Homo sapiens: one gene and its partners. The protein of the gene in region 1 interacts with the protein of each later gene in a pairwise test. Each region holds a gene or a part of one and is shown in the gene's direction. Other genes may lie near its edges.

The links.
Region 2: the proteins of EIF3F (region 1) and MYDGF interact in binary tests that used the Homo sapiens proteins (3 or more experiments, as listed by UniProt).
Region 3: the proteins of EIF3F (region 1) and PKN1 interact in binary tests that used the Homo sapiens proteins (3 or more experiments, as listed by UniProt).
Region 4: the proteins of EIF3F (region 1) and AGR2 interact in binary tests that used the Homo sapiens proteins (3 or more experiments, as listed by UniProt).
Region 5: the proteins of EIF3F (region 1) and COL1A2 interact in binary tests that used the Homo sapiens proteins (3 or more experiments, as listed by UniProt).
Region 6: the proteins of EIF3F (region 1) and DNALI1 interact in binary tests that used the Homo sapiens proteins (3 or more experiments, as listed by UniProt).
Region 7: the proteins of EIF3F (region 1) and NUP58 interact in binary tests that used the Homo sapiens proteins (3 or more experiments, as listed by UniProt).

What each region holds. Positions count from the first base shown.
Region 1 is NC_000011.10:7,990,337-7,993,836, forward strand, and holds part of EIF3F (eukaryotic translation initiation factor 3 subunit F), read left to right. Parts: intron 1-1,444; coding exon 1,445-1,515; intron 1,516-1,747; coding exon 1,748-1,827; intron 1,828-2,550; coding exon 2,551-2,688; intron 2,689-3,500. UniProt on the Homo sapiens protein: Component of the eukaryotic translation initiation factor 3 (eIF-3) complex, which is required for several steps in the initiation of protein synthesis.
Region 2 is NC_000019.10:4,657,045-4,660,342, reverse strand, and holds the end of MYDGF (myeloid-derived growth factor precursor), read left to right. Parts: intron 1-339; coding exon 340-412; intron 413-2,258; coding exon 2,259-2,338; 3' UTR 2,339-2,798; downstream 2,799-3,298. UniProt on the Homo sapiens protein: Bone marrow-derived monocyte and paracrine-acting protein that promotes cardiac myocyte survival and adaptive angiogenesis for cardiac protection and/or repair after myocardial infarction (MI).
Region 3 is NC_000019.10:14,460,806-14,464,305, forward strand, and holds part of PKN1 (serine/threonine-protein kinase N1), read left to right. Parts: intron 1-2,861; coding exon 2,862-2,937; intron 2,938-3,022; coding exon 3,023-3,164; intron 3,165-3,254; coding exon 3,255-3,348; intron 3,349-3,500. UniProt on the Homo sapiens protein: PKC-related serine/threonine-protein kinase involved in various processes such as regulation of the intermediate filaments of the actin cytoskeleton, cell migration, tumor cell invasion and transcription regulation.
Region 4 is NC_000007.14:16,791,311-16,794,999, reverse strand, and holds the end of AGR2 (anterior gradient protein 2 homolog precursor), read left to right. Parts: coding exon 1-64; intron 65-2,042; coding exon 2,043-2,092; 3' UTR 2,093-3,189; downstream 3,190-3,689. UniProt on the Homo sapiens protein: Required for MUC2 post-transcriptional synthesis and secretion. May play a role in the production of mucus by intestinal cells. Proto-oncogene that may play a role in cell migration, cell differentiation and cell growth. Promotes cell adhesion.
Region 5 is NC_000007.14:94,418,895-94,422,394, forward strand, and holds part of COL1A2 (collagen alpha-2(I) chain precursor), read left to right. Parts: intron 1-603; coding exon 604-657; intron 658-1,338; coding exon 1,339-1,392; intron 1,393-1,496; coding exon 1,497-1,550; intron 1,551-1,646; coding exon 1,647-1,754; intron 1,755-2,114; coding exon 2,115-2,168; intron 2,169-3,004; coding exon 3,005-3,058; intron 3,059-3,500. UniProt on the Homo sapiens protein: Type I collagen is a member of group I collagen (fibrillar forming collagen).
Region 6 is NC_000001.11:37,563,440-37,566,939, forward strand, and holds the end of DNALI1 (axonemal dynein light intermediate polypeptide 1), read left to right. Parts: intron 1-1,586; coding exon 1,587-1,622; 3' UTR 1,623-3,415; downstream 3,416-3,500. Other genes in the region: GNL2 (nucleolar GTP-binding protein 2), read right to left, coding at 3,416-3,500. UniProt on the Homo sapiens protein: Involved in sperm flagellum assembly.
Region 7 is NC_000013.11:25,325,625-25,329,124, forward strand, and holds part of NUP58 (nucleoporin p58/p45), read left to right. Parts: intron 1-1,291; coding exon 1,292-1,410; intron 1,411-1,805; coding exon 1,806-1,888; intron 1,889-3,500. UniProt on the Homo sapiens protein: Component of the nuclear pore complex, a complex required for the trafficking across the nuclear membrane.

The sequences.
Region 1 (3,500 bases):
GTAAATATTTTAGGCTTTGTGTGCAGTCTCTATCACAACTACTTAATTCTGCCTTTGTAGCAAGAAAGCAGCCATAAAAAAATTGGCGTGTAAACTTTATTCACAAAAAACATTTCTAGATCAGGGCCTGGCCTAGAAAAGGAACATTGAATAAAAAGACAAGAGAACAGAGACAAAACCCTAAAAACCTAAAAAGTCAGGAAGAAGTAGCCAACAAGATTAGAAAGGTAGGAAGAAAACTAGAAGGAAAGTTTTAAGATGGGAAGTAAGTGGTCAAGTCTGTTCAACGCTGATGAGAGGTCAAATAAGATAAAGGATATATGTGCATTTGGTTTAGGGACATAGTTTCAGTGAAGGGAGCAGAAACCATAGTGAGTTGGAATTAGATAAACACTGGTAGATATAGACAACACTGTGGTTTCTGGTGGAGAGGGAAACTTTTAAATCCTGGGGTAGGAGGTTCCAATAGATTAGAAGAGAATGGAAAACTCAACGTAGTGGTCTTAGGTCAAGAAACAAATGTAGTGGGAATAAATAAATAAATAAATAAATAAATAAATAAATAAAAGAAATACAGCCTGGGCACCATGGCTCACACTTGTAATCCCAGCACTTTGGGAGGCTGAGGCAGGCAGATCACTTGAGGTCAGTAGTTCAAGACCAGCCTGGCCAACATGGTGAAACCCCGTCTCTAGTAAAAATACAAAAATTAGCTGGGCGTGGTGATGCGCACCTGTAGTCTCAGCTACTCGGGAAGCTGAGGCAGGAGAATCACTTGAACCCTGGAGGCAGAGGTTGCAGTGAGCCGAGATTGCACCACTGCACTCTAGCCTGGGCGACAGCAAGATTTCGTCTCAGAAAAAAAAAAAAGAAAAAAAGAAATATGGAAGTAAAGGTATCAGAACTAGAACAAAAGTTTGTGGTAAAAGACTGACTTCTAAGGTTCGCAGATAGATTTCTGGATGATGATAAGGTTAAGACTGACCATGGGACCAGATGGCTAAAGGGAGGTACAGATGAAGCTCCTGACGTCTCAGTGTCTGAAACTTGGCCACTATATTAGCAGTCTATGTAACCATTAAAATATTCCAGGTAGCTCTGCAGATTAAATTACAGGGAGAAAGTGTAGAGGCTGAAAAAAAAGGCCGTAGAGTGAAGGTCTGGAATAGGCTAGTAGTGGAGAGTAACAGGCAAAAGGAGACCTTGTAAAGGAAGAATAAACCCTATTTGGTGATGATTAGAGGGAGAAGTTGGCGATCACACCACAGTTTCAGTTCCCTGGAGAATTCTGGTCCCATCGATGCACCGGACTAAACTTGGAGCTAATGAGTTCAGTTAGGTGTTCATTGACATTGAAGAGATCATCAAAAGCATTTCAAAAGTAGTCAGAGGTTGTTGGGAGCCCTAGGATTATATAACACATGGACGATTCTCTCTTTCACAGGAACTGTCGACAAACACTCAGTGGAGGTCACCAATTGCTTTTCAGTGCCGCACAATGAGTCAGAAGATGAAGTGAGTGGGAATCCAAGCTGTCCCTCTGCAGTTTTTAGCTGTTCATTTGCTCGGCTCCCCTCACGGTCCCTCCCACACTCATAACTAGAGCTCCTGTAGCCAAGGAGCTTCTTCCCATTTGTACGTACTTCCTGGGCCTCTTCTGTTTATTGGGGGTGGCCTCTTGTCCTTTTTAACCAATTTTTCTTTGGACTTCTGGCTTCTTAGCTTGCTTTCCTGCCTTCCCTCTTAGGTGGCTGTTGACATGGAATTTGCTAAGAATATGTATGAACTGCATAAAAAAGTTTCTCCAAATGAGCTCATCCTGGGCTGGTAAGTTGGGGAGGTGGGGGCTGGGGTTAATGGAAGGTCTCTTCGTGATTGCCGGTGTCTTTTGCTACTGGACTGGATCTTATACTCTTCCTTTTGGAGGCAAGAGTATTGCAAGTGTATTACTGACTGTGAGCAGTGGCTCAATGCCTGTAATCCCAGCTGGGAGGCTGAGGCAGGAGGATCACTTGAGCCCAGTAGTTCAAGATCAGCCTGAACAAAATAGTGAGACCCTGTCTCTACAAAAACATTTTTTAAAAACTTAGCCAGGCATGATGACACACACCTATAGTCCTAGCTATTCAGGAGGCTGAGGCTAGAGGATCACTTGAGGCCAGGAATTTGAAGTTGCAGTGAGCTATGATCATGCCTTGCCACTGCATTCCAGCCTGAGTGACAGAGTGCGACCCTGTCTCTAAAAAACAAAAGGAAAGTGTGTTACCTGTAGGAACTGTGAATTCAGTGGGTTTTGCTGGTGGTTCTGATCCTGTGGGGCCAGGATATTTCGAATTACCTTGTAAGTGACTTGGAATTTTTCATCAGCACTAAGTCAGCCTTTGATTTTATTTGACATAGTTTTCGGTGTGTGTATTGCTCTTGGCAGTTGGTGTCACTAGGTGTCCTACCGTAGAAGTGTCCGGTACCCTGAAGACACCCATGCCACTGTTGTGTTTGATATTGACGCCACATATAGACAGGAGTCCACCACTGTGTTCCATTTCACAGGTACGCTACGGGCCATGACATCACAGAGCACTCTGTGCTGATCCACGAGTACTACAGCCGAGAGGCCCCCAACCCCATCCACCTCACTGTGGACACAAGTCTCCAGAACGGCCGCATGAGCATCAAAGCCTACGTCAGGTGACCACAGTCTTGGGCTACAAGGGCATAAAACCATGCCCAGATGCCATCCCTCCCCCACCCCAAGCAAGGTTAATTCCTTCCATGTGTAACTTGCTGTGTCCTTAGGAAGCCTGTTCCTCTCTCTCAACAGTTATTCTAAAGGTTTCACTCTGAAACAAAATCTGTTCCTGTAATTTCTACCGCTGATCCTAGTTGTACTCCAGTTTCTACTCATTGCCCTTTTAAGTATTTGAGCAAGCTGTCAAGTCATCTTTTGTAGGACCTAACTATTCCATAGTTCCTACAGCCAATCATCACATGGTATTCTTGTCATGATCCTTCACCACATTCATTACTTTTCTGAATTACCCATTAGTTTGTCATTATCTCTAGAACTCAGCACAGCGCTCAGGGTAATACAGATTATAAGGATGACTGTCCTTATTTTGAACACATTTATTAACCCAGGATTGAGTGCAGTTTTAATGACAATGACATTACAGTGAACACGTTGAGCTTGCAGGTGGTTAAAATGCCAGTTATGGGGGATGTTGGGAAAGGCCCTGGTGGCATGCTGAGGAAGCAGCTGTGGTAGTTGGAAAGACCATGGTCAAAGGGAAGGCAGCTGTTAGTGCATCTGTCAGGCTGTTGATTTTGTGCTGGTTCTGTGTCTGACACTGACATAGCCAGTTAACTCTTACACAGTACACAGTAAGACAAAGATGGTGGATGCCAAGTCTTTATGAGCCAGTTGGCATACCACTAAGCACTAGCCATTGCCTGACTTCTTAACCTTCCCAGGTATTTCAGACTCCTCAAGATCCAGTATA
Region 2 (3,298 bases), on another chromosome or scaffold:
CAGCCTAGGCAACATAGCAAGACCCTATATCTACCAAAAGTAAAAAAAAAATAGCCAGGCGTGTTGGCATGCACCCATAGTCCCACCTACTCAGGAGGCCGCAGCAGGAGGATCACTTGAGTCCAGGACTTTGAAGCTGCAGTGAGCTATGATTGCACTGCTGCATTCCAGCCTGGACAGTAGAGTGAGGTCCTGGCTCAAAAACAAAAAAGTCTCCTCTCCATCTCTAGTAAAAGTAGAAAGCTTTAGTCTGTGCTTCTCTGGAAAGCAAACTCAATCGTTTTCCTAATGATGAGCATTGAACTGGCCCTGGTAAAGTTTCCACTCATTCTTTTTCAGTCTAAAGCCGCATTTGAAAGGGAAAGTGATGTCCCTCTGAAAACTGAGGAATTTGAAGTGACCAAAACAGCAGGTACGGAAAGATGGGGATGGGGTAGAGGTGACGCCACCCCCATCCAAGGGTGGGCAATCGGGGCAGTTTGGAGAGGGGGGTCAGCCATAGGGGTCCTGGAGACTGTAGACCAGGCATCCACAAACTGATTCTATAAAGGCCACCTCGTCAATATCTTCAGCTTTGTGGCACTGTGGGTTCTGTCTAGAGCTGTGCCATTGTGGCACAAAGCTGCTGCAGACAGTATGTCCATGCGTGGGTGTGGCTGTGTGCCACTAGAACTTTATCTTAGCTGGGCGCGGTGGCTCATGCCTGTTACCGCAGCTGCTCAGGAGGCTAAGGTGGGAGGATCATTGGAGCCCAGGAGGTCAAGACCAGCCTGGGCAACATAGCGAGACCCTGTCTCTACAAAATTTTTTTAAAAATCAGGCTGGGTGCGGTGGCTCACGCCTGTAATCCCAGCACTTTGGGAGGACGAGGCGGGCGGAACACTTGAGGTCAGGAGTTCCAGACCAGCTGGCCAACATAATGAAACCCCATCTCTACTAAAAATGCAAAAAATTAGCCAGGCGTGGTGGTGCGCACCTGTAATCCCAGCTATTCAGGAGAATTGCTGGAACCTGGGAGGTGGAGGTTGCAGTGAGCTGAGATCATGCCACTGCACTCTAGCCTGGAAGACAGCAAGATTCTGTCTCAAAAAGAAAAAAAATTAGCCGGGCATGGTGGTGTGTACCTGTAGTCTCAGCTACTTAGGAGGCTGAGGTGGGAGGATTATTTGAGCCCAGGAGGTCGAGGCTGCATTGAGCTATGATCGCACCACTGCACTCCAGCCTGGGCATCAGAGTAAGACTCTGTCTCAAAAACAATAAACAGGGCTGGGCATGGTGGCTCACACCTGTAATCCCAGCACTTTGGGAGGCCAGGAGTTCCAGACCAGCCTAGCCAACATGGTGAAACCCCTTCTCTACTAAAAATACCAAAATTAGCCAAGGATGGTGGCACATGCTTGTAATCCCAGCTACTCAGGAGGCAGAGACAGGAGAATCTCTTGAACTTAGGAGCAGGAGGTTGCAGTGAGTCGAGACTGCACCACTGCACTCCAGCCTAGGCAACAGAGGAAGACTCTCATCTCAAAAAAAATAATAAATTTTAAAAAATAAATAAATGAAATAAAACAAAGTAGAAACCATCAGGGCTTTGAGGTTGGGACTGTGGCATGCCGAGGGGAGGCTGCAGGGGTCACTGGGAAACATCAGGGTCCTTCTTCGGTTGCCTGAGCAGCACCGGTGTCCTCAAGCCACATTCAGCTGCATGGCGCCAATGCTAAGCAGAAAGAGGAATCGGAGGCGCCGAGCTGGGGCAAGGGTGGGAGCCAAGGGAGTGGACACAGCAGGTAGGGCCGGGAGACTTGGGTGAAGCAGTGGAAGCCAGAGTTCTGACCCTGCTGGAGAAGTGTCATGAGGGCCTCAGACAGGTTCACCCACTGAGCAGGAGGTCTTGCAGCCTGACCCACCCTGCATCCTGTTCAGGCCGGGATCATCTCCTTCCTGGGCTTCTTCTGGCCCCTTTCTGCATCTCTTCTTGACAACATGGCACAAATGACCAGGGTTCTTCCCACCTCAGGTCTTTCTGTGGCTTCCTGCTGCCTGCCATCTATGTTAGCCCCACCGACCTTACCCTCCACATCACTGTTTTCCTGTCTGTCACCCGTAAGACTTTCAGTGCCTGGGGCCTTTTCACATGGGAGTCTGCTTTGGAGACTGCTCCCCTTGCCTGCTTAGCCCCCACCATGGGCCCCACCCCAAATCCTCCGGACTTCTGAGAATTTTCAATGTTGAGGGCCCAACCATGTGTTTCTTTCTTGCAGTGGCTCACAGGCCCGGGGCATTCAAAGCTGAGCTGTCCAAGCTGGTGATTGTGGCCAAGGCATCGCGCACTGAGCTGTGACCAGCAGCCCTGTTGCGGGTGGCACCTTCTCATCTCCGGTGAAGCTGAAGGGGCCTGTGTCCCTGAAAGGGCCAGCACATCACTGGTTTTCTAGGAGGGACTCTTAAGTTTTCTACCTGGGCTGACGTTGCCTTGTCCGGAGGGGCTTGCAGGGTGGCTGAAGCCCTGGGGCAGAGAACAGAGGGTCCAGGGCCCTCCTGGCTCCCAACAGCTTCTCAGTTCCCACTTCCTGCTGAGCTCTTCTGGACTCAGGATCGCAGATCCGGGGCACAAAGAGGGTGGGGAACATGGGGGCTATGCTGGGGAAAGCAGCCATGCTCCCCCCGACCTCCAGCCGAGCATCCTTCATGAGCCTGCAGAACTGCTTTCCTATGTTTACCCAGGGGACCTCCTTTCAGATGAACTGGGAAGAGATGAAATGTTTTTTCATATTTAAATAAATAAGAACATTAAAAAGCAACCCCACAGCCTGGGCCCTCCCGGCTGGCCGTTGCGGGTCAGGAGCTCAGACGCGGCTGACACTGCCCCACCGTGGGCGGGTGGGCGGTGTCTCTGGGTGGGACTTCTCTGCAGGCATCAAAGCGCTAGATCCCAAGGTGGCTGTATGTGAACTTGCCCCCTTCCCCCCTTGGCACTCGCTGTCCCTGGGTCCCCCACATGTTGTGAATTCACACCCGGGTTTCTGTGGCTGCCACAGGCCCCAGCGCGGGAGGATGTTCCAAGGCCGACCTGCTCTCTGCAGCCTGGGGCATTGGTTTCCCTTAGTTTGTTTTTCTTTTGAGACAGGGTCTTCTCCTGTCACCCAGGCTGAAGTGTAGTGGTGTAACACGGCTCACTGCAACCTCCACCTCCTGGGCTCAAGCGATCTTGCCACCTCAGCCTTCCAAGTAGCTGGGACTACAGGCACACGCCACCATGCCCGGCTAATTTTTGCATCTTCTTTTGATAGAGACAGCGTTT
Region 3 (3,500 bases), on another chromosome or scaffold:
CTATATATTATCTATCAACCAATCTATTTTTCCATGCATCCGTCTCTATTATCTGTCAGTCATCTTATCCATCAATCTTATGTATGCATCATCCATCCATCTATCCATCCCTGTATATTTCTCTGTATATATATCTACCCATTCCTCTCTCTATCTCTATCTATCCCTCTCTATATCTATCTGTGCCTCTGTTTTTCTCTATATAGCTATATCTATCTATCCATCCATCTATATTATCTATCAACTAATCTATCTTTCCGTCTACCCATCTGTCTATATTATCTATCCATCTATATTATCTATCTATCATCTTATCCATCCATCCATTTATCTTATCTATGCTCATCCCTCCATCCATCCATCTCTGTATATTCCTCTATCTCTATTTATATCCACCCATTCCTGTCTCTGTCTCTATCTATCCCTCTCTGTATCTATCTGTGTCTCTCTCTCTTTTTCTCTCGATAGCTGTATCTATCTATCCATCCATCTATCCATGCATCCTTCTCTTTCTATGAATCCCTTTCTCTATCAGTCCCTCTCTCTTTCTCTATCTGTAACTACCCTTCCGTCCATGCCCCTCTCTATCTACCTGCGTCTATATCTGTCTCTTTCTGTGTCTATTTATCCATCTCTCTATATCCATATCCCTAAGCAGAGGTTCTCCCCTGGTCTGACCATCAAGCACCAGTGAAAGAAAGGGGCGGGGCCAGGCACAGTGGCTCACACCTGTAATCCCAGCACTTTGGGAGGCTGAGGCGGGCAGATCACTAAGTCAGGAGTTCGAGACTAGCCTGGTCAACATGGTGAAACCCCGTCTCTACTGAAAATAGAAAAATTAGCCGGGTGTGGTAGCAGGCGCCTGTAATCCCAGCTACGCGGGAGGCTGAGGCAGGAGAATCAGTTGAACCTGGGAGATGAAGGTTGCAGTGAGCCGAGATCGCATCATTGCACTCCAGCCTGGGCAACAACAGCGAAACTCTGTCTCAAAAAAAAAAAAAAGAAAGAAAGAAAGGGGCGTGGAGAAGAGCTGACTCCAGATGGCAGAGGTTTAAAATTGTTCTCCCATTCAGAACACAGCCCAAACCAAATGGAAAGTGATGGTGGGTGGCCTGGGGGACACATTCTAAAGCGTTTCTCCTTGCCTTCAAGGTCTCTCTGTGGCATTCTATTTTGTTTTTATGCCTATACAGAAGCATTCTTCCATAGAACTTTTCTGCAGCTCTGGCCGGGCGCTGTGGCTCACGCCTGTAATCCCAATACTTCGGGAGGCTGAGGCGGATGGATCATTTGAGGTCAGGAGTTTGAGACCAGCCTGGCCAACATGGTGAAACCCTGTCTTTACTAAAAATACAAAAATTCGGCTGGGTGCGGTGGCTCACGCCTGTCATCCCAGCACTTTGGGAGGGTAGGCAGGCAGATCACCTGAGGTCAGGAGTTCAAGACCAGCCTGGCCAACGTGGAAAAACCTAGTCTCTACTAAAAATACAAAAATCAGCCAGGTGTGGTGGCGCACGCCTGTAATCCCAGTTACTTGGGAGGCTGAGGCAGGAGAATCACTTGAACCTGGGAGGCGGAGGTTGTAGTGAGCCAAGATCGCACCACTGTACTCCAGCCTGGGCAACAGAGTGAGACTGTGTCTCAAAAAAAAAAAAAAAGAAATTAGCCGGGCTTGGTGGTGGGTGCCTGTAATCCCAGCTGCTCGGGAGACTGAGGCAGGAGAATCTCTAGAGCCTGGGAGGTGGAGGTTGTGGTGAGCCCAGATTGCGCCACTGCACTCCAGCCTGGGCAACAGAGTCTCAAAGAAAAAAGGAACTTTCTGCAGCTCTGTTGTCGATGCACCCACAGTAGCTGAGTTCTGTTGTAGATGGAAATGTTCTCTATCTGAAGTGTGACCAGTGTGACCAGGGAACCAAAGTTTTAATTTCGCTGACATTTTCACTAATTTAAATCGCCACATGTGACAACCATACCAGACACTGCAGTTCTGTGACTTCAGCACCTTCTAGAAGTTGTATTGGAGTTGGGAGAATTCAACTTGACAGGTGGCTTCCATAGATGGGTGGGCACCAGCATTGCCTGGGGGCTTGTTGAAATACTGAGTGCTTTAGGGCCGGGCACGGTGGCTCGCGCCTGTAATCCCAGCACTTTGGGAGGCCAAAGTGGGCAGATCGCTTGAGCCCAGGAGTTCAGGACCAGCCTGGCCAACATGGTGAAACTCCGTCTCTACAAAAATACAACAATTTGCCAGGCATGGGGGTGCGTGCCTGTAGTCCCAGCTACTCAGGAGGCTGAGGTGGGAGGATCTCTTGAGCCCGGGAGGTGGAGGCTGCAGTGAGCCGAGATCGGACTACTCATATGTGCATATATATATGTGTGTATATATATATATGTGTGTGTGTATATATATATATATATAGAGAGAGAGAGAGAGCATGCGCGCGCTTCCTCCACTCCATGTTTCTGGCTCAGTAGGTCAAACCTGCGTTTCTAGAAAGTTCCCAGGTGTTGCTGCTACTGCAGGTCTGGGGTCTGGGAGCACATGTGGGGAATGGGGTGTGGGATGGCGTGGCGTCCGTTTGCAGTCGCTGTCTGTCAGTCTTGTTGGGTCAGATGCTCTCCCCACCTCTAGAAAGGGACCCGGTTGTTTGCTTCTTGCTTTTCCAAGACGTCCCTTCAGGAGGGGAGCCATGGGTTGCACCGATGACCTCTTCATTGTCACCTGGTACTCGGGTTGAATCTGATGCCACGTGACCAGAACCCCACTTGGGCGCGCACACCTGTGCTCCCAGGGGCTTCCTTACCAAGCTGTCTGCCTGCAGGTGGGCAGAGGGTCCTCACATTTTGGTCCCTTCCCCCAGGTCACCTTCCGCAACCCTGTCATTGAGAGGATTCCTCGGCTCCGACGGCAGAAGAAAATTTTCTCCAAGCAGCAAGGTGAGAGGGTGCTCCAGGCTTCCTGGGGGAGAGGCCAGGGGTCCTGGGAGTGTCATGGAGGGTGACGCCTGCCCCGTCCCCCCAGGGAAGGCGTTCCAGCGTGCTAGGCAGATGAACATCGATGTCGCCACGTGGGTGCGGCTGCTCCGGAGGCTCATCCCCAATGCCACGGGCACAGGCACCTTTAGCCCTGGGGCTTCTCCAGGATCCGAGGCCCGGACCACGGGGTAAGGAAGGAGGGCCCCATGGTCCCGGCTGCCCCTTGAAGCCTGCGAGGGTCCTGGGTCCCAGACACACCCTCCTCTCGTCTGCTGCAGTGACATATCGGTGGAGAAGCTGAACCTCGGCACTGACTCGGACAGCTCACCTCAGAAGAGCTCGCGGGATCCTCCTTCCAGCCCATCGAGCCTGGTGAGGGTCCCCCCTTCTATCCCCGTAGGCCTGGCCTGGGCAGCGTCAGGGGTCCTGCTCCAGGCTCAGAGACCACTAGGAACTTCCCTGGAGCCACGCAGCATGTCTGTGGCAGAACCAGGGCCCAGATCTCTATGCTGGTTAAAACGTGT
Region 4 (3,689 bases), on another chromosome or scaffold:
GCCGATATCACTGGAAGATATTCAAATCGTCTCTATGCTTACGAACCTGCAGATACAGCTCTGTGTAAGTGTGACCTTCAATTCGGATGTTGCCCAAGAGTTGAACACCTCTATTGCTGTAGTGATGGGACTAGAGGCTGCATGGTGAGGTGAGAGAGAGCTAGGCTTAGGGACGCCTCGGACTCAGTTTGACCCTAACTAGCCTTGCATCTTCAGGCAAATCACACTCTTTCCATCTCAGGTTTGTTTGTTTTTAATCTCAATTGAAGATGAATTATTTAGATTAGGTATCTTTTTCTCTAGGAGGATTCTATGACCACATTACCTGATTTTCAGGTTTTCTGTTAGGTACACGAGCACACACTCCTTCTATCACAGAACTGAGTGTAATAATTGTAATAATCTGCATGTCTTAATTTTTTAAATAACAAAAGTGAAAGAATGTGCAGTCCAGCTTAAAATTAAATTCAGGTTCAGTTTAAAGATCAGTTTCAAAGATGATCCAAATGATTGCCAAGAAAATTACCTTCCCTATGGTTGCCATCAATGGAAGAGAGACAGAGAGAGAGAGAGACACTGACTTAAGGCAGATGAGGTACCTCAATGCAACGCTGTAGCTAGCTGTGACATCTGATTAGTCCTCTGGGAAGAAAAGTGGGTTTTATCCTAGGAACCAACTCTGATCAATTAGTAGTGGCTGCCTAGAACTGCACTGTCCAATATGTTAACCATTTGCCACATGTTGCTACTTAAGTTAAAGTTAGAAATTCATTCCTTCAGTCACACTAGCCATATTCCAAGTGCTCAATGCCCGGACACTGAACATTTCCATCATCACAGAAATTTCTATTGGCCAGTGCTGACTTAGAACGTCATGTTGGGAAGAGAAGTGAGGCCGTGTCTAGGAAGCAGGAGAGATCATCATGGTCCATTAGCAATGTTTCCAGTGTGTGCTGGACCAGGGGAAGCACATTCCAAGTACTGTCAGCCATTACTGAGATAATACCATACATTTTAATAAGACTAAGCTCTTAAAAGGCACGTGTCCTACACAAGTAATATCACAATCCCTTGTAGAACAGGCACTTAATAATTAAGATTTGTAGGAAGAGTGAATAAGCGGCTGTTCAATGCCTATCGAGTGGACATCTTATTTTTAGTAGATCACATACCTCATTTTGATGAATTGCTGTTGAAGAAACAGTGACCCAGAGTTTGGGCTCTGGAACAGTAGCTCCATTACTTGTTAGCTGTGTGACCTTGAGCAAGCTACTCAGCCTCTCTCTGCCTGTTTCATTATGTATATATAAAGTTCTAATCGTGTTTGTATGAGGATTAAAGAATTCATCTGCATAAAGCACTTGGTTTGCTATTATTTATATTTCCCCTACTTCTAAAACAATTTACACACACCTACTAATAGACATTTCTTTTAAACATGATTTAAATTTACTTCTAAATGAGCCAAAATTATCTTCTGCTGCTAGAGCTTATAAAAGGATTCTTTTGGAAGTGAGGGTTGGAGATGAAGGATCTGGGAAGGAATGACTACACTAGAAAACTAGATTGTCACAAAAGCCATTTCATATAATTTTTTTAAATTACAATAAGATTACCAACTATTCACCTCATGATAAAAAGCATCCTATCAGGCTGGGCACAGTGGCTCACGCCTGTAATCCCAGCACTTTGGGAGGCCGAGGTGTGTGGATCACTTGAGCTCAGGAGTTCGAGACCAGCCTGGCCAGCATACCAAAACCCCATCTCTCCCAAAAATACAAAAATTAGCTGGGCATGGTGGAGCACACCTCTAATCCCAGCTACTCAGGAGGCTAAGGCTGAAGAATCACTTGAACCCAGGAGGCAGAGGTTGCACTGAGTGGAGATTGCACCACTGCATGCCAGCCTGAGTGGGAGTGAGACCTTGTCTCAAAAAAAAAAGCATCCCATTAAATAATGAATTGAGCATCCAAGTTTGGGGTTTATTATATCGATATAACGCACGATGGTGTCTTGACTCTCCTGCTTTTATCCCCCATTAGTGCTTGACAACATGAAGAAAGCTCTCAAGTTGCTGAAGACTGAATTGTAAAGAAAAAAAATCTCCAAGCCCTTCTGTCTGTCAGGCCTTGAGACTTGAAACCAGAAGAAGTGTGAGAAGACTGGCTAGTGTGGAAGCATAGTGAACACACTGATTAGGTTATGGTTTAATGTTACAACAACTATTTTTTAAGAAAAACAAGTTTTAGAAATTTGGTTTCAAGTGTACATGTGTGAAAACAATATTGTATACTACCATAGTGAGCCATGATTTTCTAAAAAAAAAAATAAATGTTTTGGGGGTGTTCTGTTTTCTCCAACTTGGTCTTTCACAGTGGTTCGTTTACCAAATAGGATTAAACACACACAAAATGCTCAAGGAAGGGACAAGACAAAACCAAAACTAGTTCAAATGATGAAGACCAAAGACCAAGTTATCATCTCACCACACCACAGGTTCTCACTAGATGACTGTAAGTAGACACGAGCTTAATCAACAGAAGTATCAAGCCATGTGCTTTAGCATAAAAGAATATTTAGAAAAACATCCCAAGAAAATCACATCACTACCTAGAGTCAACTCTGGCCAGGAACTCTAAGGTACACACTTTCATTTAGTAATTAAATTTTAGTCAGATTTTGCCCAACCTAATGCTCTCAGGGAAAGCCTCTGGCAAGTAGCTTTCTCCTTCAGAGGTCTAATTTAGTAGAAAGGTCATCCAAAGAACATCTGCACTCCTGAACACACCCTGAAGAAATCCTGGGAATTGACCTTGTAATCGATTTGTCTGTCAAGGTCCTAAAGTACTGGAGTGAAATAAATTCAGCCAACATGTGACTAATTGGAAGAAGAGCAAAGGGTGGTGACGTGTTGATGAGGCAGATGGAGATCAGAGGTTACTAGGGTTTAGGAAACGTGAAAGGCTGTGGCATCAGGGTAGGGGAGCATTCTGCCTAACAGAAATTAGAATTGTGTGTTAATGTCTTCACTCTATACTTAATCTCACATTCATTAATATATGGAATTCCTCTACTGCCCAGCCCCTCCTGATTTCTTTGGCCCCTGGACTATGGTGCTGTATATAATGCTTTGCAGTATCTGTTGCTTGTCTTGATTAACTTTTTTGGATAAAACCTTTTTTGAACAGATCTTTTGGCATTATTAATTTTTCCAGGGATATATTTTCAATCTTTTCTATCTCTCCTAGTGACTACTATCATTAGTAGGTGTTGAGCATATACTGCTGATTTAATGACATACAAATCTTCAGCAAAAATATCACAGGTTAATCAGCTCCCTTCTCACAAGTAGATAACTTACATGTGCTGAAAAAGGTAAAACATTCCATTTAAAAAGATCTCTGAGGGATAACAAGAGGAAAAAGAGGTTTCCCTTCCATAAACAAATATTTTAAATGACAAGTTCTAAGTGATTCAAGTTTCTCCTATAGTATAGCAAAATATTTTTTCATTGGGCGGACGTGAAATAAGGTTAACTTCTTAAAATGTATTGAATGGCAAAATATCTTAACACATACAAATACTTTTTAAATATAAATAAATATTTAGGAAATCAAATGTTACAGCTGTAAGGAAAATAAGTCCCCCTTTTAAAAGCATTGAAGAAACACAAAGCATGAGTCATTAAT
Region 5 (3,500 bases), on another chromosome or scaffold:
CTCCTATGCTTTAGGAAGCCGGGACCTCTAACAAGATTCTATAGTTATTCAAACCTACTCCCTAGAAATTTATCACCCAAAGAGCAGCCCCAAAGATTAGCTGTTAATGCCATGAAGATGCCAAAGATAATCCCATGACAGTCTAATTACCTTATCTCGTATGTCAGCCTCATGGGTCTTCTAGGCCACAGTCGGCCTGGATTCCTTTATTCACCTCTCCTTCAGAGCTGAAAACTGACTGTAGCACATCTGTAATAGTCTTTCTTTTGAATCACGTAGTTCTAACAGTTTCAAACAAGGCTACTCATTTGCTGCTCTCCAGGGAATTTTACAATAGCGGAAAGTTCAGATCTCCCAAATTTCTGACCTGCTATTGACTTACACATTTCCATAACCTTTATTACTGGAGTACCCTCCTTCTGAGAGTGGCTTCTAATAGTCTTGTTAATTAGAACCAAAATACATCAGAGGCCTTCTAGATATCCAACCAGAGTGCAGTGAAAGTGTTCAGTCACTGTATAAGCACAGAAAAAAAGAATGACAAGGTTCACTTTTGATGATACGGGGTGTTATTAATAAGACATGTTTCCTTTTTGGTACTAGGGTGCTCCTGGTGCTGTAGGTGCCCCTGGTCCTGCTGGAGCCACAGGTGACCGGGTAAGCATGCATTTTCACTAAGCCAACAGCAATATCTAAAATTTCCCGCCTTCCCTAGTCCCAAAGAGCCCCAGCAATTCATTTTTATGGCTTGGTATAAAGCCTACTTATTTAAAAACCTAGCTATTGTGATAGAGCAGCAGGAAACAAATGCTGTGTGTTTAAAATTACTTTTCCCTTCCTATAGATTTGCCAGCTATCTGATCTATACTCTAATCCCTAGCATTTGTTTTAAAGTCTCTCCATGTTGCGCATTAACAATATCCTAATGCACTGAGGCTTCTCAAAGCCTTCAATTATTACCAAAAAATCAATAAAATACATAGTGTGCCCATTTCACATTGAACTCTCCACTTAAAATAGATCTTATTTATTGTATTGCAAAGATTGCCACAAATAGATCAGCCCCGTGTCCATCTAAAAATTAAAATGTCCTCCTCCTGGTATTGTAGGCACTGATTTATAGTGTTTTCTCAAGTGTATAACCCATACTACTTAACCCCCAAAATGAATATAGCATTAAGTAAAAATCCACTTCATTTTACTCTGTGAGATGTGCGTCAGTTATCTCTTCCAAGGCAACTACAGACTCTGTCTGTCCACCACTGTTCTCTCTCCCTCCCAGTTCTTTGAGCATCTATGTCAGGCACATTAACAGATTCATCTTTGGTCCCATTATAGGGCGAAGCTGGGGCTGCTGGTCCTGCTGGTCCTGCTGGTCCTCGGGGAAGCCCTGTAAGTAAGAACCTGGGTCATTTTGTATACTCACACCTCACAATGTTTAGACATTGATGAACCTAGGATTGATAACACATTTTTAAATCCCTTCTCCCACCTAGGGTGAACGTGGTGAGGTCGGTCCTGCTGGCCCCAATGGATTTGCTGGTCCTGCTGTGAGTATCACATAATGAAGATTAATCTGAAAACATCCTAAGTTGGGGAGTAGAGTGGGTCGGAATACCAGAGCTGTAACTGTTTATTTCCAACAGGGTGCTGCTGGTCAACCTGGTGCTAAAGGAGAAAGAGGAGCCAAAGGGCCTAAGGGTGAAAACGGTGTTGTTGGTCCCACAGGCCCCGTTGGAGCTGCTGGCCCAGCTGTAAGTTGAATTCACTGGTGGTCCACACAGCAGCTACCCATTAGATCTTCCAATTAAATATATATCCGTCAAGTGCCTGCTATGCAACAGGGAATATACCAGATAGAAGATGGAAAATAACGGAAGGATTAACATTTGCACACTGCTTTACAAAGTATAAAAGTTTCATGAATATTGTTTTATTTTAATTCTCTGATAACCTCATAAGGGTGGTAATATTGAAGAACATTCTGACACAGATAGTCATTTTTTATTTCTATATTTTCTTCTAAGAGATGCGGGAATGATCCACTTGAAGAAAAGAGTAGCATTTACAAGGGTTTGTTTGTGATTTGACTCCATCTTTTTGTTTGCATTTAGGGTCCAAATGGTCCCCCCGGTCCTGCTGGAAGTCGTGGTGATGGAGGCCCCCCTGTGAGTATTTACAATGGACTCTCGCCGCTTTTCTTTTTTCAGAATCTATTAAGGACACTTGAAAGTTTTGAAATTTTTGGTAAATTTGGACTACCATGAGGAAACTTTTGAGATTCAAGTTCATTCTATTCAGAGCAATTCCGATATTGATGTTAACTTGAACTCAGCTGGAACTCAGTGTATGTTGCTATCAGCTCACTTGAGGTAATAACCAAGGTGGGCCCTAGGCAGTTTAATTGTAAAGTCGGAAAAAATATTCCTTTTGGCGTTTATTAATATGCCCCTTCTTCTGCCTGACCATGTCCTTCTCCTTTGCAGGCAATGCTATCACAACAATTCTCTAGAGACCCAGAGCTCCCCAAAAATGAACTTTACTGACTTCTTCTCTCACTGGACAGTGCTGAATTATCTAGGTCATTTGTTATTCTTTTGTCCATGAACACCATTACCTATTAAGTGTCCATTTCCTTACCACTCAGCCAGGTGGTAAAGATAGTTATTAATGTATACACATTAATGTGTAATAATGACATAGTGTCTTATCTTCATACCTTTACAACCATAAGATAATATGTCAGCATTTCAGAAAGGACCATCCAAACCTTAACGCAAAATATGGGCATTGCAACTGGTAATATGCTGGTAAGGAAGATGTGTGGAGAAGGAGGGCCTTCAGGGTCCTGGCTAAATAATGCCCTATATGAAGCTGCCTACCTCCTACTCCTTGGTCTATTCCTGGTCACATGTACTGATTTTCCAAAACAAAGAAATTCCCATCTTACCCAAATTCTTGGAGTTGATGTTGACTGTGGAATTCTAATGTGCTTGGCTCTTAGGGTATGACTGGTTTCCCTGGTGCTGCTGGACGGACTGGTCCCCCAGGACCCTCTGTAAGTAAATCACTGTAAACGTGTCTTCATTTACTCTAGCCAAAAGGCCTGGCTTCTGATAGGAAACTGGTAAGAAACTCTTCATGAAAACACATCACTAATATTCGCTATTACTCTCCTGGTCTGAAGTCAGCTTTTCTGAACCATTAAGGTATTTCATCACAAGTTATATTTTATAATATCAGTTTAAGAGGCTTTTATTCATGTGAACACCAGTCCCCTTTCAGGGGCATGGTCTTTTTGAAAAAAAAAAAACAAAAAAACGAACAGTTTTAGCCACATATCAGATATTTCTATATCTAATTATCCTTTATGGCTAACATTCTGCCTCCATTGTTAAGGTATAATTGTTCCTGAATTTAAAGGTGGTTTGGCCTCTAATTTAATTCTGATTCAGACTCTCCTGTCAGGACTCAAGAAAATTTAATTAATTACCAAGGAT
Region 6 (3,500 bases), on another chromosome or scaffold:
AAGCAATCTTGTAATCTCCAGGGTGAAAGATTCTTTAGAAGTTGGCATTTTTAAATTTTTTTTCTTTTGAGACGGAGTTTTGCTCTTGTTGCCCAGGCTGGAGTGCAATGGCACCATCTCAACTCATTGCAACCTCTACCTCCCGGGTTGAAGTGATTCTCTTGCCTCAGCCTCCTGAGTAGCTGGGATTACAGGCATGTGCCAGCACGCCCGGCAAATTTCTGTATTTTGAATAGAGATGGGGTTTCACCATGTTGGCCAGGCTGGTCATGAACTCCTGACCTCACATGATCTGCCCACCTTGGCCTCCCAAAGTGCTGGAATTACAGGCTTGTAATACAGGAAGTGAGCTATTTTTATTGGCTCAAAACTGCATTGCAAATAAAGCAGCTTTGCTGTCCCCAGGATAGACCTACCTAAAGATCTGTCCAGTATTATTTTATTGGCTACCAGAGGAACATAGTAAATAACTCCCAAGTGTCTTAAGCTTTACATAAAGAGGGACAGCTCTCGGCTGGGTGTGGTAGCTCACACCTGTAATCCCAGCACTTTGGGAGGCCGAGGCAGGTGGATCACATGAGGTCAGGAGTTTGAGACCAGCCTGGCCAACGTGGTGAAACCCATTTCTACTAAAAATACAAAAAGTAGCTGGGCGTGGTGATGTGCATCTGTAATCCAAGCTACTCAGGAGGCTGAGGCAGGAGAATCACTTGAACCCGGGAGGTAGAGGTTGCAGTGAACCGATATCACACCATCACACTCCAGCCTGGGTGACAAGAGCAAAACTCCATTCCCCACCCCCACCCCCCAACAAAGAGGGACAGCTCTGTATTCACTGGCAGCATTTCTCTAATTGTGTGCCAAGTTGTCTCAGTGGCTGAAAATTCACTGTTTCCCAAACCTCTGGTCCCAGCAGAACTCCCAGGATCCTAAACCAGAGAGCCAATATTTTTTTTTTTTTGAGACGGAGTCTCCCTCTGTCACCCAGGCTGGAGTGCAGTGGCACGATCTTGGCTCACTGCAAGCCCCGCCTCCCAGGTTCATGCTATTCTCCTGCCTCAGCCTCTGGAGTAGCTGGGACTACAGACGCCTGCCACCACGCCCAACTAATTTTTGTATTTTTAGTAGAGACGGGGTTTCACCGTGTTATCCAGGATGGTCTGGATCTCCTGACCTCACGATCCGCCCGCCTCAGCCTCCCAAAGTGCTGGGATTACAGGAATGAGCCACTGCGCCCGGCCAGAGAGCCAAATGTTTAACTTAGCAGACATATTCTGGCCTGAAACCTGAGCCATGAAAAGCCCTTACAACAATGCATTCAATATCCTTTTCAATGCTTTATATCATACCCGGAGCCATTATTGTGTTGAAACCAGGACAGCTCTGGCTTCTCCTCATATACTAAAGACTGTATGCCAAGCTAGAAACTAGCTAATCTAGAAAATATGGATTTGGGGATCAAGGGGAAAAAGAACCCTTGGAGTGACAGCATGTGGATTCTTCTTCCCAGAGATTTGATCACCTCTCAGCTATTTGTATCAGGCTGCAAGTTTCAAGTATTAATGGAGCTTGTTTTTGTTTTTCAGGCCCAACTGGAAGGCATTATTGCACCAAAGAAGTGATAATTTCCACATGATTAATTTCCAACAAGACACTTGGGAGTTATTTACTGTGTTCCTCTGGCAGCCAATAAAATCATCATAAGCCCTTTGTAATAAAAAGCTAGTTTCCTGAGTGAACAAGCCATAACCTCCCCTAAACACCACCTAGGTATTTGTTAGAAGTCACACTATTACTCCAATGTCATCAGACACCTAAGGTCTGCCAGCCAGGCTCCTGGCTGGGCAATGGAAGATGGTGTGGCCCTGTTAGTCTCCGTGTGTGGCTTACTAGCCAGCCTTGGGAACTGCCAACTCAAATTCTAAGAAAGCCACTGCTTTCTCATCATCACTCTATACCAATACTTATTTCTGGCCAAATGAATCTGCTTCTCTGCCCCTCAAACTTTTAGTTCACAATTCATCTTCTACCTTAACTTGGGCTTCTTGGGCCTCTGGCCTTCCTTACTTAATGTCTTCTTTTCCCTACTCTAATGCATTTCTAACTCACTTTGGAGCTTTGGTTTTCTAATGTATTATCCCCACTTGCCAGTCAACTGGACCCCTTCCTCCTCGGTTTCAGACTGCCTACATTAGGAAACAATGGCAGTCAAACCCATGGCTTTGGAGAAAGTAAATGTTTGCCAGAAAGGAATACTAGTCACAGTGGCCTTTGTGAGTTGTCTGCAACTCAGCTCTTCCCCCAGCACAGATCTGTTCCCCTTATCCTGCAGAAAATCAAGCCCTGACTCTGCACTCCCCGAAGTAGTGATGTTAATTAACAACTGAAGAGGTAACTAAATCTCACATGCAGGTCTAATGACTAATAATTGGAGTACGGCTGCTAGACAACTGCATTTTAGTATTTCTCTTCCATTCTCCTGGTTTTGTAGACCCAGAAGATTGAATGAGTGACATAAATCTTTAGTTCGGGGCAAGCCAGGGTGGGCTAGGGTGGTAAGCTGGAGGACTTCATCCTTCAGTTAGGCTGCACAAGTAACATTACCTAAAAGGCACTAACATGCTCAGGTTCCCCAGAAAGAGGCGTAAGAAGGGCCTCTCCTTAGCAGAGCTTCCACCTGCCATCCGTCTTGGGTTCAGTGAGCTTCAAGGCTCACAATGGAAGCACTGTCATTTCCCCAGAAAAGCTGTGTTCCCTATGCTGAACACACCATACACATTCTCATCTGGAATCTAAGGAGCAGCTTTTACCCTGATCCAGTATCCTGAGGAATTTTAAGCCTCCACTCAAATGACCTGCCTGTGTTGTCATTTCCATGGGAAAGAACTCTTTCCACGAGATCTGCTAGTTCCAGGCCTCTAAGACAGGAACGTATGTGCCATAAGTGGGTCTACTTCACAGACTCAATGAGGCAGAAATTATTGTAGTTTTCTCCTATTTCTTCTGCACCCAACTTTCTCCTTGTATTTCAAAGGCCAGGCCATGTACACTAACGTCCTTGAAATTTGCAGTTCTGTATGCTTCTATTCCAAATCATTCATTACCAATAAAAACGAAATACCACCCTTTCCATTTTATAGACCTCATCCCCTATTTCTGTCAGACAGTTATATGACAGGGTGACTGTGGAACCTCTTAGTTCATCCAAAGTCTACCTGAAGTGCTAGACTTTCAGACTCTTATCACTGAAATCCTTAAGGTTGAGGAGGCTTTATTTCCCTAGCACTGGTGAAGGGCTTCAACTGTCAAACCTCAGAACAAATGCATTAGGGCCTTAGAAATGTCAATGGGGCAGGAAGAAAACACAATTTCTAACTGCCTGTTTTTGTATAATTTAATAAAAACCTTTTAAACATTACTGCTTTTGTCTGAATTTTTTGCGTTTGTGTTTCTGTCCCTCTGAGTCATTGGTCTTCTTTTTGTTCCTGTTCCTATTTTTC
Region 7 (3,500 bases), on another chromosome or scaffold:
TCACAAGATCTCTGTAGCTGTTGTTATTCCAGTTTTAGCGATAAAGAGACTGAGGTATGCAAAAGTGAGTTGAGTGGTGGAGGTCTGTTTGATTCCTGGTCCCTCACAATTAATTAATTAACTTGTAGAGATGCCATTTCACAGTGTTGCCTAGGCTGGTCCTAGGCTAAAGTGATTCTCCCGCCTCAGACTCCTAAAGTGCTGGGATTACAGATGTGAGCCACCACGCCTGGCCCCTTACTTATTTTATTCTTTTAGTTTTTTATTATAATTTTGGTCTACAGAAAAGTTTCAAGATGAGAACTAAAAATTCCTGTATGCCTTTCATTCCAATTTCCTACATATTAACATTTTTACCATATTTTTGTTCCTCACATTCTATGTGTGTATATACATTTCTCCCCCAAACAGTTTGGGTTATTTGCAGAAATAATGTTCACTATGCTAAAGTACTTCAGTGGATATTTCTTAAAAATAAGGATATTCTCATACTTAACAGTTCTCAAAATCAGGAAATTCATAATGCCCATGATATTCGTCTTACTCAGGTTGGCATGAGATGTGCTTCCTCACTGGACTTCCTCTACTATTTTATCCCTCTGTCTTGTACTTAATACTGCCATCAGAGCTAATTTTGCAAAATGCATTCATGGTTGCCCATTGTTTACTGAAAGACATTCAGATTCCTCTGTATACTATTCAAGATACCTTCTTTTTTTTTTTTTATCTGTCTAGCACTCTCTGTGGGTAAATTTATTAGAAAAGTAGCAATAATTACATGTGCTTTCTGTAGTATACTATGGTGTTCTCAGATTATAAATTTCATTGATAAAATGACTATAAATTCTTAATTCTGAAATCTGGTTGGTAGACGTTTCTACTTTATTTTAAATTTATTTTAACCTTACAGAAAACTTCCAAAATAGTAGTACAGAGAATTTATTTATATCGCTTCCCTTGCTTCCCCTAATGTTAACTTATAACTATAGTATAATTACCAAGAACAGGAAACTAAAATTGTTACAATATTATTAACTAAACTACTAAACTTACTGAAATTCAACCAGTTTTTCCACTAGTGTACTTCTGTTTCAGCATCCTATTTGGGATTCACAGTGCATTTGTAATTTCTCCTTAATATCTTCCAGTCACAGTTATTCAGTCCTTCCTTTCCTTGGATAACCTTGATACTTTTGAAGACTATTAAATGATTGCAGAATATTCCTTAATTTGGATTTGTCACTCCAAATTAAAAAAATATTTGATCTGACTTTTTAAATGTTTTTTAAAGCTACTTCAGAATCTTGGTTCAGCAATTTGAGGTACAGCTTCAGCAGTACAGGCAGCAGATTGAAGAACTAGAAAACCATCTTGCCACTCAAGCAAATAATTCACATATAACCCCTCAAGGTAACATGCTTACTGTGGTAATTTTTTTTGAACTTTTGTTTGTAGGAGATAGATGTGGTTATATAATAGGTATTTTGGATAACTACTGGTAGCCCCTTTAAGAAAATTTCCTTAAAAGTCATTTACTACTCCTTTATTCCCTATAAATATAATATGCTTTATTATATGAATTGTTACTGTGGTAACAAGGACAGAAATCTTAGGGCCTTCCCCCCAGATTTCTTTTGTAGACATTCAGTCTGCTACTCTGTGTGTTCTCTGGCCATGAGAACGTTGATAGAGTTTTTTTCTCCTACACGTTAACTGTGCCAAAAATTGGACTCAAATAGAAAAATAAAATGGATTGTGCTATATATATGTATATATTTGGGTGATAATGTAATTTTCTTTTATAGATTTGTCAATGGCTATGCAGAAAATTTATCAAACATTTGTAGCTTTAGCGGCACAACTTCAGTCTATTCATGAAAATGTAAAGGTAAGTTTTCATTACCCATTTATCTACCTGGATATGTAGACCCAAGTATTTGTTCATCTGGGGACAAATGTGTCCATGCTTGATACAGAAATAGCTAAAATTACATATAAGTGAAAAGATGAAAACTACTATAATCCATAACATACCCAGACATAACGATTGATAATACCTGTTCTTTTAAAAAAGATCCAAGTACGCTGTAGTCTGTTATTATAACTTTTTTTTAAGCAGTGCATTGTGAATAACTTTCTATGTTAATACACATATTTCCTGAATATCATTTTTAATAGTTAACATAGGAGTTTGTTGTATGGTTGTACATTGTTTAACCCATTTTCTGTTGGATATTTAGGTGGTTTCTATTTCTTTACTACTATAAATAGCACTATAGAAAATAGGCATTCTTAGTCAGGCACAGTGGCTTACACCTGTAATCCCAGCACTTTGGGAGGCCGAGGCGGGCGAATCACAAAGTCAGGAGTTCAAGACCAGCCTGGCCAATATGGTGAAACCCCGTCTCTACTAAAATTACAAAAATTAGCCGGGTATGGTGGCGGGCACTTGTAGTCCCAGCTACCTGGGAGGCTGAGGCAGGAGAATCGCTTGAACCCAGGAGGTGGAGGTTGCAGTGAGCCGAGATCACACCACTGCACTCCAGCCTGGGCAACAGAGCAAGATTCCATCTCAAAAAAAAAGAAAATAAGCATTCTTAGTAGCAAATGATTTTGTACTACCTTAATTTTATCTGTTTTAAGTGTTTATTGGCCACTGCATTAAAAACCGGCTTACAGCATTTCTCCCTTTTAAATACAGGGAACTGTTTGTGTTTATTAAATAGTGTAAATAAAATGATTTATCACTGAATATTTAGACTGACTCTCGCTTTTTTTTTTTTTTTTTTGAGACAGACTCTTGCTCTGTCGCCCAGGCTGGAGTTCAGTGGCATGATCTTGGTTCACTGCAACCTCCACCTCCTGGGTTCAAGTGATTCTCATGCCTCAGCCTCCTGAATAGCTGGGACTACAGGCACGTGCCACCATGCCTGGCTAATTTTTTGTATTTTTAGTAGAGACAGGGTTTTGCCATGTTGCACAGGCTGGTCTCGAACTACTAAATTCAGGCAATCCTCCCTCCTCGGCCTCCCAAAGTGCTAGGATTTATGGGCATGAGCCACTGCACCCAGCCTGAATATTTTGACTCTCATAATAACGTTAGTTTTAAAAATGTATTTAAGTGAAATGTTCAAGGTAAGTACATCTTTTCTAACTAACTGAGCAAATGTAATTAAACTCTTTAATCTTGGAGTGTATGTGGTCCAAAATACCTTTAAAATTCAAGCAGCGAAACCTGAGTCTAGATAAATTATCAACTGTGTAGAATAGAGTTTAATTGGAATTATCAACATTTTCATTTTTATTTTGATTTCATGCATAGTAACAGGATTTTTTTAAGTAAACCATTTAAATTACACCATTTTTGAAATGGTAGTGCACTTTAGACCTTTTGCTTTAGTAGATTTAAAACTGTAACCCAAATCTTTAAATTTTGTTCTAAAGGAGGAATTTTATCAGATTTAAAAAAATTCTATTAGTCTATAATAAATGTTACTTTA